Regions from separate parts of the Homo sapiens genome. Here all the other regions are linked to region 1. The links come from fine-mapping of genetic effects on plasma protein levels. A gene starts in region 1. Each other region holds a variant in brackets. All regions are shown on one strand. Distances are from middle to middle. Region 1 holds the start of LRPAP1 (LDL receptor related protein associated protein 1). Region 2 has its middle 33 kb from the start of LRPAP1. Region 3 overlaps FAM193A (family with sequence similarity 193 member A). Region 4 overlaps GRK4 (G protein-coupled receptor kinase 4).

What was found. PIP is the posterior inclusion probability: the model's chance that the variant is causal. The UK Biobank Pharma Proteomics Project read protein levels with antibody pairs (Olink). The fine-mapping took linkage between variants from a reference panel, not from the people measured, so its PIPs are less certain.
Region 2: its variant is fine-mapped to the plasma level of the LRPAP1 protein (UK Biobank, PIP above 0.99).
Region 3: its variant is fine-mapped to the plasma level of the LRPAP1 protein (UK Biobank, PIP above 0.99).
Region 4: its variant is fine-mapped to the plasma level of the LRPAP1 protein (UK Biobank, PIP above 0.99).

Annotation. Positions count from the first base shown.
Region 1 is chr4:3,531,145-3,533,823 of GRCh38, forward strand. It overlaps LRPAP1 (LDL receptor related protein associated protein 1), which reads right to left and starts at 1,278. Exons shown (of 8, transcript NM_002337.4): 1 at 1,065-1,278. The coding sequence starts at 1,268. RefSeq lists silencers at 768-1,017, 1,458-1,517 and an enhancer at 1,058-1,267.
Region 2 is chr4:3,498,377-3,501,055 of GRCh38, forward strand. It overlaps a transcript of DOK7 not described here. Among named protein-coding and RNA genes, the nearest start is that of LRPAP1, 33 kb to the right of the region's middle. The variant G/A (reference allele first, on the strand shown) is at 1,339.
Region 3 is chr4:2,609,307-2,611,985 of GRCh38, forward strand. The region is part of intron 2 of FAM193A (family with sequence similarity 193 member A); the gene reads left to right. Among named protein-coding and RNA genes, the nearest start is that of FAM193A, 74 kb to the left of the region's middle. The variant A/G (reference allele first, on the strand shown) is at 1,180.
Region 4 is chr4:3,014,235-3,016,913 of GRCh38, forward strand. All of the region lies in intron 8 of GRK4 (G protein-coupled receptor kinase 4), which reads left to right. Among named protein-coding and RNA genes, the nearest start is that of GRK4, 52 kb to the left of the region's middle. The variant C/G (reference allele first, on the strand shown) is at 1,079.

The DNA.
Region 1 (2,679 bases):
CTCCGCAGGCTGAACATTACGCCTGGGGCTTGACTGCTGGTCCCAGGAGCAGTTCAGGAAGGGCCTGTGGAGCTGATGCCCAGGCGTCAATCCCCATCCCCACGCAGTCTTATAACCGTCTGTCGTCTGTCTGTCCCCCACCTGTTTCTCCTCTCCCTTTTCGTTCCAAAAGTTCCTTCTTATTCTGCAAATCACTTACTTTCCCTCTCAAAGACTCAGGAATGCTTAAAACTGGACTATTGAGACAGAGATCTAATCTGACTCCTGCATTTGAGATGAGATAATGAGGCCCAGATGGTCGGCATAGTTCGAAAACACCCATTTCAGGTGTTTTCAGGAACACCTAACAAATGAAGCAACCGTATCTTAATGAAGAGAGCAGCTGGCCCAGGGTCACGCACCAATTAGGAAGCTGTTGTCCCGGGGGGCCCCACCGGCCGAGCCACCTTGGGGGTGCCCTTTCCCCTCGGGGCCTCCGTACCCTCATCTCTCAAATGAAGGAGAGGTCAGGTGAGCGCCCTGTTAAGACTGACTTTCAGCATTCCCAAGGTCGCGTTTTATGTGCTCTAAACCGATCCCATCTCCTCACCTCCTCATTTCTCGCTCAAATGAACAAGCACGGGCTTGCTACTGGGATTCCTTCTGTCCCTGGACACGTCTTTCTACCCAACATTTTGTTTTTCTTGTTTCCCCACATAGGGAGATAAGGTTGAGGGAACAGGCAAAGGCTCGGGAGGCAGGAGACCTGTGATCTAGCCTGGTTCTGTCCCTACGCTCGGGTCAGCAGGCCGCCCAGGCTGGGGAGGGCGACACTGACCCTCGGGGTGCCGGCCGCCACCTGCTTCACACGGCGTCGTCGCCGGCACGGGTACCTTTCCTGCTGCAGAAGGGGTCGGGGCGCCCCACCTGACACTTGGGGGAGGCTGTGCCAAGGACAGGGCGCGTAGGGCACAGGTGCCCCGGCTGCGCCCCCCTCCGCCTCCGACCCCTGGGCCCCGCTCCAACGACCCCAACCACGGCCCCCGCCCCCAGGCCCCGCTCCACCGACCGCGGGCCGCGCTCACTCGCTGGGCCTTCTCCCACAGCTGGTTCAACTTCTCCATGCGGAACTCCTCTCCGGACTCGCGTTTCGGGGACGGCTTGGGCTGGTTCTTCTCCCGCGAGTACTTGCCGCCGTGGCTCGCAGCGGGCCAGGGCCCGAGGAAGAGCAGCAGCAGTAGCAGCGCCGGGAGCCCGCGCAGAAACGACCTGACCCTCCGCGGCGCCATCTTCCTCTGCGACTGGCGCTGCGCGGAGAAAACCTAGCCTGCCGATGCCCCGCCCACTACCCCGCCCCCACCCACCGCGCGGTCTCCTGGGAATTGTAGTTCCTCCGTGAGCGGCCGGCAGCGGCGAGGCCGCCGGCGGACTCCAGCGCCTAGGAAGCCCTGCGCAGGCGCAAGCGTTTCCCAGGCAACCACGCCGCGGCCCGAGGCTGCAGACTCTGGCAGGGGATACAACTGGAGAATGAGGGTGGCCGGGTGGGAGCAGGGATCAGGCCTCACCCAGAGCCCGGAGCCTGGAGCCCGCACGACTCGAGGCCTCTTTCCCTCTCTGCCCCACAGAAAGAGCGGAAAGCCCAAGAACCGGGCCGCGTTTGGCTGAGCCTGATAATGCTCCGGCTTCACGCGCACTGACGCCGACTCTTGCATGTCCAGTGCCGTTGCGGGGTTGGCACTGCGGCCCGGGCCTGGCGCTGAGGAGCCTGGCCCAGCCCGCTTCTGCCCTCCGCGGAGCGCCTGGCCGTGGGTAAGCCCAGGCCAGGTTGTCCCGGGGACGCAGGGCCGCGCAGACGTCCCCCTACGTCCCGGGGCCCCTGCCCCAACCCGCGTCCCAAGCGCCTGCTCTCGCGCCTGCTGCAAGGCAGGACTTCGCGCGCTTTTCCCCAACCCATGACACTCTAGGAAATTCACAGAGCCAAAGTTAGCATAGACCGCTCGTTGGGGGCTTGGCCAGTGAGTTGGGAAGTGCCCTGGAGGTAGCGCGGGAAACAAGGGGAAGGAGGGAGACAGACAGCAGCTGGGCCCCTTTGGGCTCAGAGAAGGGACAAGGGGAGCTCATCTGGCAAGAATGATCTGAAAAGGCCTCCAAGGGTGGGCGGGATTTTGCGGGGGGAGGGAGGAATTTCCAACTGGAGGGACAATGACAAAGGGGGTGAATAGAGCCTGGGCATCTTGAGAGGAATTAATGTTAATTCATTTCCTTTTTTTGCGTGGGGGGATAGGGTCTCTGTCATCGAGGCTGGAGTGCAGTGGCATGATCATGGCTCACTGCAGCCTCGACCTCCTGGGCTAAAGCGATCCTCCTGCCTCAGCCTCCCAAGTAGCTGGAACTATAGGTGCGTGTCACCACGCCCAGCTAATTTTTGAAATTTTTTGGTAGAAATTAGGTCTCCCTATGTTGTCCAGGCTGTTCTCCAACTCCTGGGCTCAAGCAACCCTCCCGTCTTGGTCCCCCAAAGTGCTGGGATTACAGGCGTGGGCCACTGGGCCTACCCTAATTTACATTTAAATTGTATCTTGTGTTGTTCCAGAGAAGATTTCAGGTCCCTGGAATCAAGGTGATCTGCTTCTGTCCTGTGCTGCTTTTCTAGTATTTTCAGAGCCATCGTTTCATTTCTTTTTTTCCAGCTGTTGAGTT
Region 2 (2,679 bases), 33 kb before region 1:
GTCCCCTTTCCCTGCAGTCAGGCCTCATGCTCCTTCCTGCTTCCACCCTCACCCCTCACCGCCCAACCTTGGGAGCAAACTTGGAAGAACGGATGCAATCCTAAAACGAGGTACCAGGCTGCAGGGGGGTGTCCAGCCCCACCGTGGGCAAGCCCCGGCCCTGCCCCTTGGCTTCAAGGCCCCCTTTCCAGACGCCAGGCCCCGGCGCTCCCTCAGCTCTCCCCAGGCCCTCACCCCACCTGCCTCTCCCACCACCCCCTCTTGGCCTAGCCCCTCAGCCATGCCCCCTCCTCTAGGCAGCTGGCCCTGCTGGCCCTGTCCCTGCTGGCCCAGGTGCCTGCCTGGGCACCAGAACTTGGCCGCTATGTTCTGTGGCTCATCTCGATGAAGGGGTCCTGGCATTCCGAGGGGACCAGCCCTCTAGGACCACACATTTGCAGGAGGGGGGTCTCCCCAGGGCCTCAGGGCCAGGCAGGGTTGGGGCAGAATTGTGTTGGTTGCTTTAGTTCATGGAATCAGGTGAGCGAACCCTCGTCGACCTGGGCTCCATCTCGCTCTGTCCCAGCTGCTGCCTGCAGAATCAGCGAGTCAGGTCTCCCTGGCCTCAGTTTCCCCACTGGGAGCAAGCAAGTGAAAGTTCCTCACCCCTAGCCCTGCTGCAGGGAGTGACGGGGACAAGGGTGAGAGGAGCCAGGCAGAGTGGATGTCTGCGGCAGGTGCCGGGCAGCGGGTGGCCACAGGAGAACCTGGTCTGCTGAGGATGCATCCCTGGGGCAGGGAGGCCCAGCCTTGAGTCAGGCCCCTCCCCTGGACAGGCAGGTGTTTCAGGGAGGCCGACCCTGCAGGGCTGTCACCCGCTGGATCCCAGCCCCCACCTGAATTCTGAGGGCTCGGAGTGTGCTGGGGGTGGGGAGGTCACTGTGGGTGGGGCTTGGCTGTGTCTCCCAGCCACTGGCTCAGGGAATGGGGGGGGACTTGCTGTCACCTCCCCTGCCTCACGTGGCTGTGCGTTCCCTCACGAGGTCCTGATGACAAGAATGGGAGGAGGCACTGGAGAACGGGGTCCTTCCTGTAGAACCTGGGTGCCCACGGTGCGGAGCCCTCAGGCCTGCAGAGGAGGGGCCGGTGTGCGTCCAACCCCCTAAGGTGGGAGCCTGCCTCAAGTCCCACCCAGCCGGGCCTGTGGGGTCCCCTCCTATCCTGCTCCTGCTCTGCCCTCCCCAGCACCAATGGGGTGTGCAGACAGAACCATCAGCTATTAGGAAGGGGGTCGGGGGAAGGGAGTAGCTCCTATGAGGGGGGAGAGGGTGTGGGGCACCTGGGTGTCCTGGAGGGGAT[G/A]CAGAGGGAGCGTGGGCCTGTGTGCAGGAGAGGAGGGGGTCCCTGGAGCCTGCAGCAGGTGGGGGTGACCCCGGAGGACAGTGAGGGGGAGGTGCTGGGGGCCAGGACAAAGCAGGGCTGTGCTGGCCCGGGAGGGTTAGGTAGAGAAGGTGCTGGGACAGCCAAGGAGGGGCGGTTGGTGGAGAGAGTTGGGAAGGTGCGGGGCGAGGGGCGCAGGGACAGAAGAGTGGGCCTTGGGGGGCCCATGGGGGGGTCGGCAATTCCTGCAGGGGAGGCGGCACAGTGGAGGGGACAGCGCTTCCTTCTGCTCTGTGGGTACTTGGACCAGGAGTGGACAGTGTGGGGGGGGCCTCAGGATGGGGCAGCGCTGGGCCAAAGATGGACGGTCAGGAACATGGAGCGGGAACTTCCAAGGTGCAGGAGAGGCGGAGTGGGGAGGAGGGGCTAGGCAGGGTGGGCAGCTCTTTACTGCACAATCTTTGAGATCTGTGCCCCTCTCGGTCCCCACCGGGGCTTCACAGCCGCTCCCCCCACAGGATCCCCAGGACCCGTGGCTGTGGACAGCCCAGGACCAGAGAGGCCGCGCGGCGAGTCGCCCACTTACGTGAACATCCCCGTCAGCCCATCCTCCAGAAAGCAGCTGCACTACATGGGCCTGGAGCTCCAGGAGGCCAGCGAGGGTGTCCGAGGTGGGTCCCCGCCCTGCGTGGAGGCACTGACAATTGGGGGCTGGGACCACAGCCTCAGGGCCCTGAGCCCCCAGCCCCACCCAGCAGCCCTTGGCCAGGGAGCTTTTCCTACAGCCTCCCCCCAGGAGGCAAATGTCCCCAACTCCATCCCTGGCCAGGCCACATCCCCTGAGGGTGTCCCCACTCAGATGCTTCCGAGGGCCTGGCTGGGGGACTGGTGTGGAGGGCAGGGTCACAGGGCTGGGTGGCTCGGGGCGCAGGCTGCCGCTCACTACAGAATTCTTTCAGGGGCTGGCGCCTCCCTCTACGCCCAGATCGACATCATGGCCACCGAGACGGCGCACAGAGTGGGGGTGCGGCACGCACGGGCCCGGGAGGAGCAGCTGTCGGAGCTGGAGCAGAGGAAGGCAGCCCCGCAGTGAGGTCACAGCGCCAGGAGCTGACCGCAAACCCGGTGCGCTGTGCGGCCCCGTGGCCCCCGGCAGGCCAGCCCCTTCTGTTGGGCGTGGTCTGGTCCCCAGGGAGCTCCCAGTCGCAGGAGCAGGCATGGCCGGTCTCCGGGCCATGGTGCAAACAGGAAGTTTTCAGGGCCCACGGCCAGGCCTCCTGCCTCACAGGTGTCCGGGGCTGACCCTTCGGCCTGAAAGAGTTG
Region 3 (2,679 bases), 920 kb before region 1:
AGTTTTAGTCTGGTGGGAGATACGGTGAGGGGATGGCACTTTGGGGTAATTGTTTTTTCTTTAAAGGGCCCTGAACTCAAGCATCCTGTCATAAAGAAGACTACTCGGCAAGTAGTCTTAAGTTTCTATCTATTTTTCTGTTTTCAAGGCTGTTTTAGACTCCATTTTGATTATGGGCATTAGCAGTTGTCTTTATTCTCATATATCATATTATTAAAATGTAAGTTGCATTTTACACTAAGGAACTGGGTTCTCCAATAGTTATTATGCCCATAGATTAATCAAGGCATATAGTCCCAACTTAAGCCATTTAAGAGTTTGCTGGCGTAGGCCACCGTGCACGGCGGCCTAGGCCGATCACGCCTGTAATCCCGGCACTTTGGGAGGCCGAGGCGGGTGGATCATGAGGTCAGGAGATCGAGACCATCCTGGCTAACACGGTGAAACCCCGTCTCTACTAAAAATATAAAAAATCAGCTGGGTGTGGTGTTGTGCATCTGTAGTCCCAGCTACTCAGGAGGCTGAGGCAGGAGAATCCCTCTAACCCGGGAGGCTGAGGTTTCAGTGAGCTGAGATGGCGCTACAGCACTCCAGCCTAATGACAGAGCGAGACTCCGTCTTAAAAAAAAAAAAAGAGTTTGCTGGCTGGGCGCAGTGGCTCACTCCTGTAATCCCAGCATTTTGGGAGGCCGAGGCAGATGGGTCACCTGAGGTCAGGAGATTGAGACCAGCCTGGCCAACATGATGAAACCCCATCTCTACTAAAAATACAAAAATTAGTTGGGCTTGGTTGCGGGTGCCTGTAATCCCAGCTACTCAGGAGGCTGAGGCAGGAGAATCGCTTGAACCAGAGAGTTGGAGGTTGCAGTGAGCCGAGATCACGCCACTAAACTCCAGCCTGGCGACAGAGCGAGACTCTGTCTCAAAAACAAAACAAAACAAAAAAAACTCGCTAGTATTTGTCATTATCTTGAATTGTTACCCAATGGTTACTACGCCCATAGATCAATCAAGGCATATAGTCCCAACTTAAACCAGCCATTTAAGAGTTTGCTAGTATTGGTCCTTACCTTGAATGCTTGCCCTGTTGGGTTTTAGGTCATATTAGAAACGTACAGATTTCTTTGCAGTGAACTTCATGAAAGTAGTTGCTAATGTAATTTGTTGGAACTACTCAAA[A/G]TTGCCAGATTGACTTGAGTTAGCCTTACAGAAAGATAAGCTGAGTGGTGATCTTTGGCTTTTTTCCTTTAGCATAATGCTTTTGAGAGTCATCTCTGTTGTTGCATGTAGCAATAGTTAATTCCTTTTATTTCTGGGTAATAATCCATTGTATGGATAAACCACAATTTGTTTATCCATTCATCAATAGAGAGACGTTTGTATTTTCCAGTTTGGGCTGTTATGAGTAGAGCTACTAGGAACATTTGAGTATCAGTCTTTTTTTTTTTGAGATGGAGTTTCGCTCTTGTCACCCAGGCTGGAGTGCAATGGCGCGATCTCGGCTCACCGCAGCCTCCGCCTCCCAAGTTCAAGCGATTCTCCTGCCTCAGTCTCCCAAGTAGCTGAGATTACAGGCATGCACCACCACGCCCAGCTAGTTGTGTATTTTTAGTAGAGACAGGGTTTCTCCATGTTGGTCAGGCTGGTCTCAAACTTACAACCTCAGGTGATCCACTCGCCTCCGCCTCCCAAAGTGCTGGGATTACAGGCATGAGCCACCGTGCCCGGCCGAGTATCAGTCTTTTAAGTGGATGCAATTTACTTCTCTTTGATAAACACCTGGGAGTGGAATTGCTGAGTCCTATAGGGTAAGTGCTTATACTGTTCTGCAGCCACGTATGAGAGGTCCAGTTGATCTTTATCTTTGCCAAGTGCTGGATATTGGCAGTCTTTACTTACAGCCATTCTAGTGGTTTGTAGTGTTATCCTTCATTATGGTTTTAATCTGCATTTTCTATTTATTTATTTATTTATTTATTTGAGACAGAGTCTCACTGTGTCACCCAGGCTGGAGTGCAGTGGCTCAATCTCGGCTCACTGCAGCCTCCACCTCCCAGGTTCAAGCAGTTCTCTTGTCTCAGCCTCCCATGTAGCTGGGACTACAGGCGCCAGCCACCATGCATAGTTAATTTTTTTTTTGTATTTTTAGTGGAAACGGGGTTTCACCATGTTGGTCAGTCTGGTCTTGAACTCCCGACCTCAGGTGATCCACCCGCCTCAGCCTACCAAAGTGCTGGGATTACAGGCGTGAGCCACCACGCCCGGCTTAATCTGCATTTTCTTAACGACTTGTTGAGCATCTTTTCATGTACCTATTTTCCATTTGTATCTCTTTGGAAAAGTGGCTGTTCAGATCTTCTGCTCATTTTTATTGAGTTGTCTTAATGAGTTGTGAGATATTTTTATATAATCTCAATACAAGCCCTTTATTAGACAGGCTTCACAAACATTTTCTCTCAGCGTGTGACTGGCATTTTCATTATACAGCACTGTCCTCTGAAGAGCAAAAGATTTATATTTTGATCAAATCCATTTTTTTTTTTTTTTTGAGACAGTCTCTCGCTCTTTTGTCCAGGCCGGAGTGCAGTGGCACTATCTCGGCTCACTGCAAGCTCCGCCTCCCGGGTTCACACCATTCTCCTGCCTCAGCCTCCCAAGTAGCTGGGACTACAGGCGCCC
Region 4 (2,679 bases), 520 kb before region 1:
CTCTGGCCCCTGGGACACTGTGACTTGGCTGTGCTTGAGGATACCTTCTCTCTCTCTCTCTCTTTTTTTTTTTTTTTTTTGACACAGGGTTTCGCTCTGTTGTCCAGGCTGGAGCGCAATGGCACGATCTTGGGTCACTGCAGCCTCAACCTTCCAGGCCCAAGTGATCCTCCTACCTCAGCCTCCCAAGCAGCTGGGACCACAGGCACACACCACCATGCCCAACTAGGTTTTAATTTTTTTATTTTTATTCTTATTTTTTAGAGATGAGATCTCTGGCCAGGCGCGGTGGCTCACACCTGTAATCCCACCACTTAGGGAGGCCAAGGAGGGTGGATCACCTGAGGTCAGGAGTTCGAGACCAGCCTGACCAACATGGTGAAATCCCGTCTCTACTAAAAATACAAAAAGAATTAGGTGGGCCTGGTGGCGCGTGCCTGTAGTCCCAGCTACTTGGGATGCTGGTGCAGGAGAATCACTTGAACCTGGGAGGCGGAGGTTGCAGTGAGCTGAGATTGCACCACCGCACTCCAGCCTGGGCAACAGAGCGAGACTCCGTTTCAAAAAAAAGAGAGAGAGATGAGATCTCCCTATGTTGCTCAGGCTGGTCTTGAACTCCTGGGCTCAAGTGATCCACCTGCCTCAGCTTCCCAAAGTGTTGGGATTACAGGTGTGAGCTACCACGTCTGGCTGAGGATACCTTCTCTAGCCCCCTTCTCATGTGGGCCTCCTCCCTCTGGCCTCAATCTGCTTTCCGTCTTTTCCTTTTTCTGGGAAGTTTACCGCTAGGCCCTCAACTAGCATATCCCAATTGTATGAAGCCCAAATACCACCTTCCCACCTTTCTGGAAAGGACAGAACATTGGGCGGACTGGTATGAGCTCAGGGGAGCAGTTCCAGGCTTTACGGTGTGCATTGTATAGTGTGGTTCTCATCTCCAAACCCAGTTTCTCTCTACCTAATTACATATGTCCTGTAGCAGCTACTGAAGTATGAAGACTGGTTGAAGGGAGAGTGTGAACGAGAATTTATAAAATGATTTGTAGTGTTAGAGCTATTTCCTCCAAGCCATTTATTT[C/G]TTAGCCCGGAGGTTAGCTGCTTTGTGCAGGGGGACAAATGTTCCCAGTGTACCTTCACAGCCAGCATCTGAATTTAATAGCACAGTGTGGGGCCGGGCGCGGTGGCTCACGCCTGTAATCCCAGCACTTTGGGAGGCCGAGGCAGGCGTCAGGAGATCGAGACCCTCCTGGCTAACACAGTGAAACCCCATCTCTACTAAAAATACAAAGAATTAGCCAGGCGTGGTGGCAGGCGCCTGTAGTCCCAGCTACTCAGGAGGCTGAGGCAGGAGAATGGCGTGAACCCCGGAGGCGGAGCTTGCAGTGAGCCAAGATCACGCCACTGCACTCCAGCCTGGGCAACAGAGCAAGACTCCATCTCAAAAAAAAAAAAAAAAATAGCACAGTGTGTGTATATGATATGTCACTCTCATGTGCAATTACTTGAAAATCTGTAATAAAATGGGCTTATCTGGGAGTTGCTTTAAACATATTTTTTGGCTGGGCTTGGTGGCTCATGCCTGTCATTTCAGCACTTTGGGAGGCCAAGGTGGGAGGATCACTTGAGCCCAGGAGTTTGAAACCAGCCTGGGCAACATAGGGAGACCCCCATCACCCTATTTTTTTTTTTTTTGATACAGAGTCTCGCACTGTCTCCCGGGCTGGAGTGCAGTGGCGCGATCTTGGCTCACTGCAACATCCGGCTCCCGGGCTCAAGTGATTCTCCTGCCTCAGCCTCCCGAGTAGCTGGTTTTACAGGTGCCCACCACCACACCCAGCTAATTTTTTGTATTATTAGTAGCGACAGGGTTTCACTTTGTTGGCCAGGCTGGTCTCAAACTCCTGACCTTGTGATCTACCCACCTTGGCCTCCCAGAATGCTGGGGATTACAGGTGTGAGCCACCAAGCCTGGCCTCTACAAAAAAAATTTTTTTTAAAAGGCCAGGCACTGTGGCTCACGCCCTGTAATCCCAGCACTTTGGGAGGCCAAGGCCTGCAGATCACCTGAGGTCAGGAGTTCGAGACCAGCCTGGCCAACATGGTGAAACCCTGTCTCTAATAAAATACAAAAATTAGCTGGGTGTGTGGTGGCGAGCACCTGTAATCCAAGCTACTTGGGTGGCTGAGACAGGAGAATTGCTTGAACTCAGAAGACGGAGGTTGCAGTGAGCCCAGATTGCGCCATTGTACTCCAGCCTGTGTACTCCAGCCTGGGTGACAGAGTGAGACTCAATCTCCAAAAAAAAAAAAAAAAAAATTAGCCAGGCATGGTGGTGTGTGACTGTAGTCCCAGCTACTCAGAAGGCTGTGGTGGGAGGATTGCTTGAACCCAGGTGGTCAGGGCTGCAGTGAGCCATTATTGCCCACTGCACTCCAGCCTGGGTGACAGAGTGAGATCCCATCTCAAAAACAAAGCAAAACAAAAAAAAAAATACAAAAAAACAAAACAAAAAAAACCCCCGTGTAACTACCTTGGAACATAGAAATCCACAATCTAGCTTTATGAAAAGAACAGAAACAGTTGTTACAGTTTCTTTTGCTTAAATGCTTTGATTTCTATATCGTTGGCCTCTCCCAAGGAACCTAGAGACATTTTTCTCCTTCCCTATGGTGTTTTCT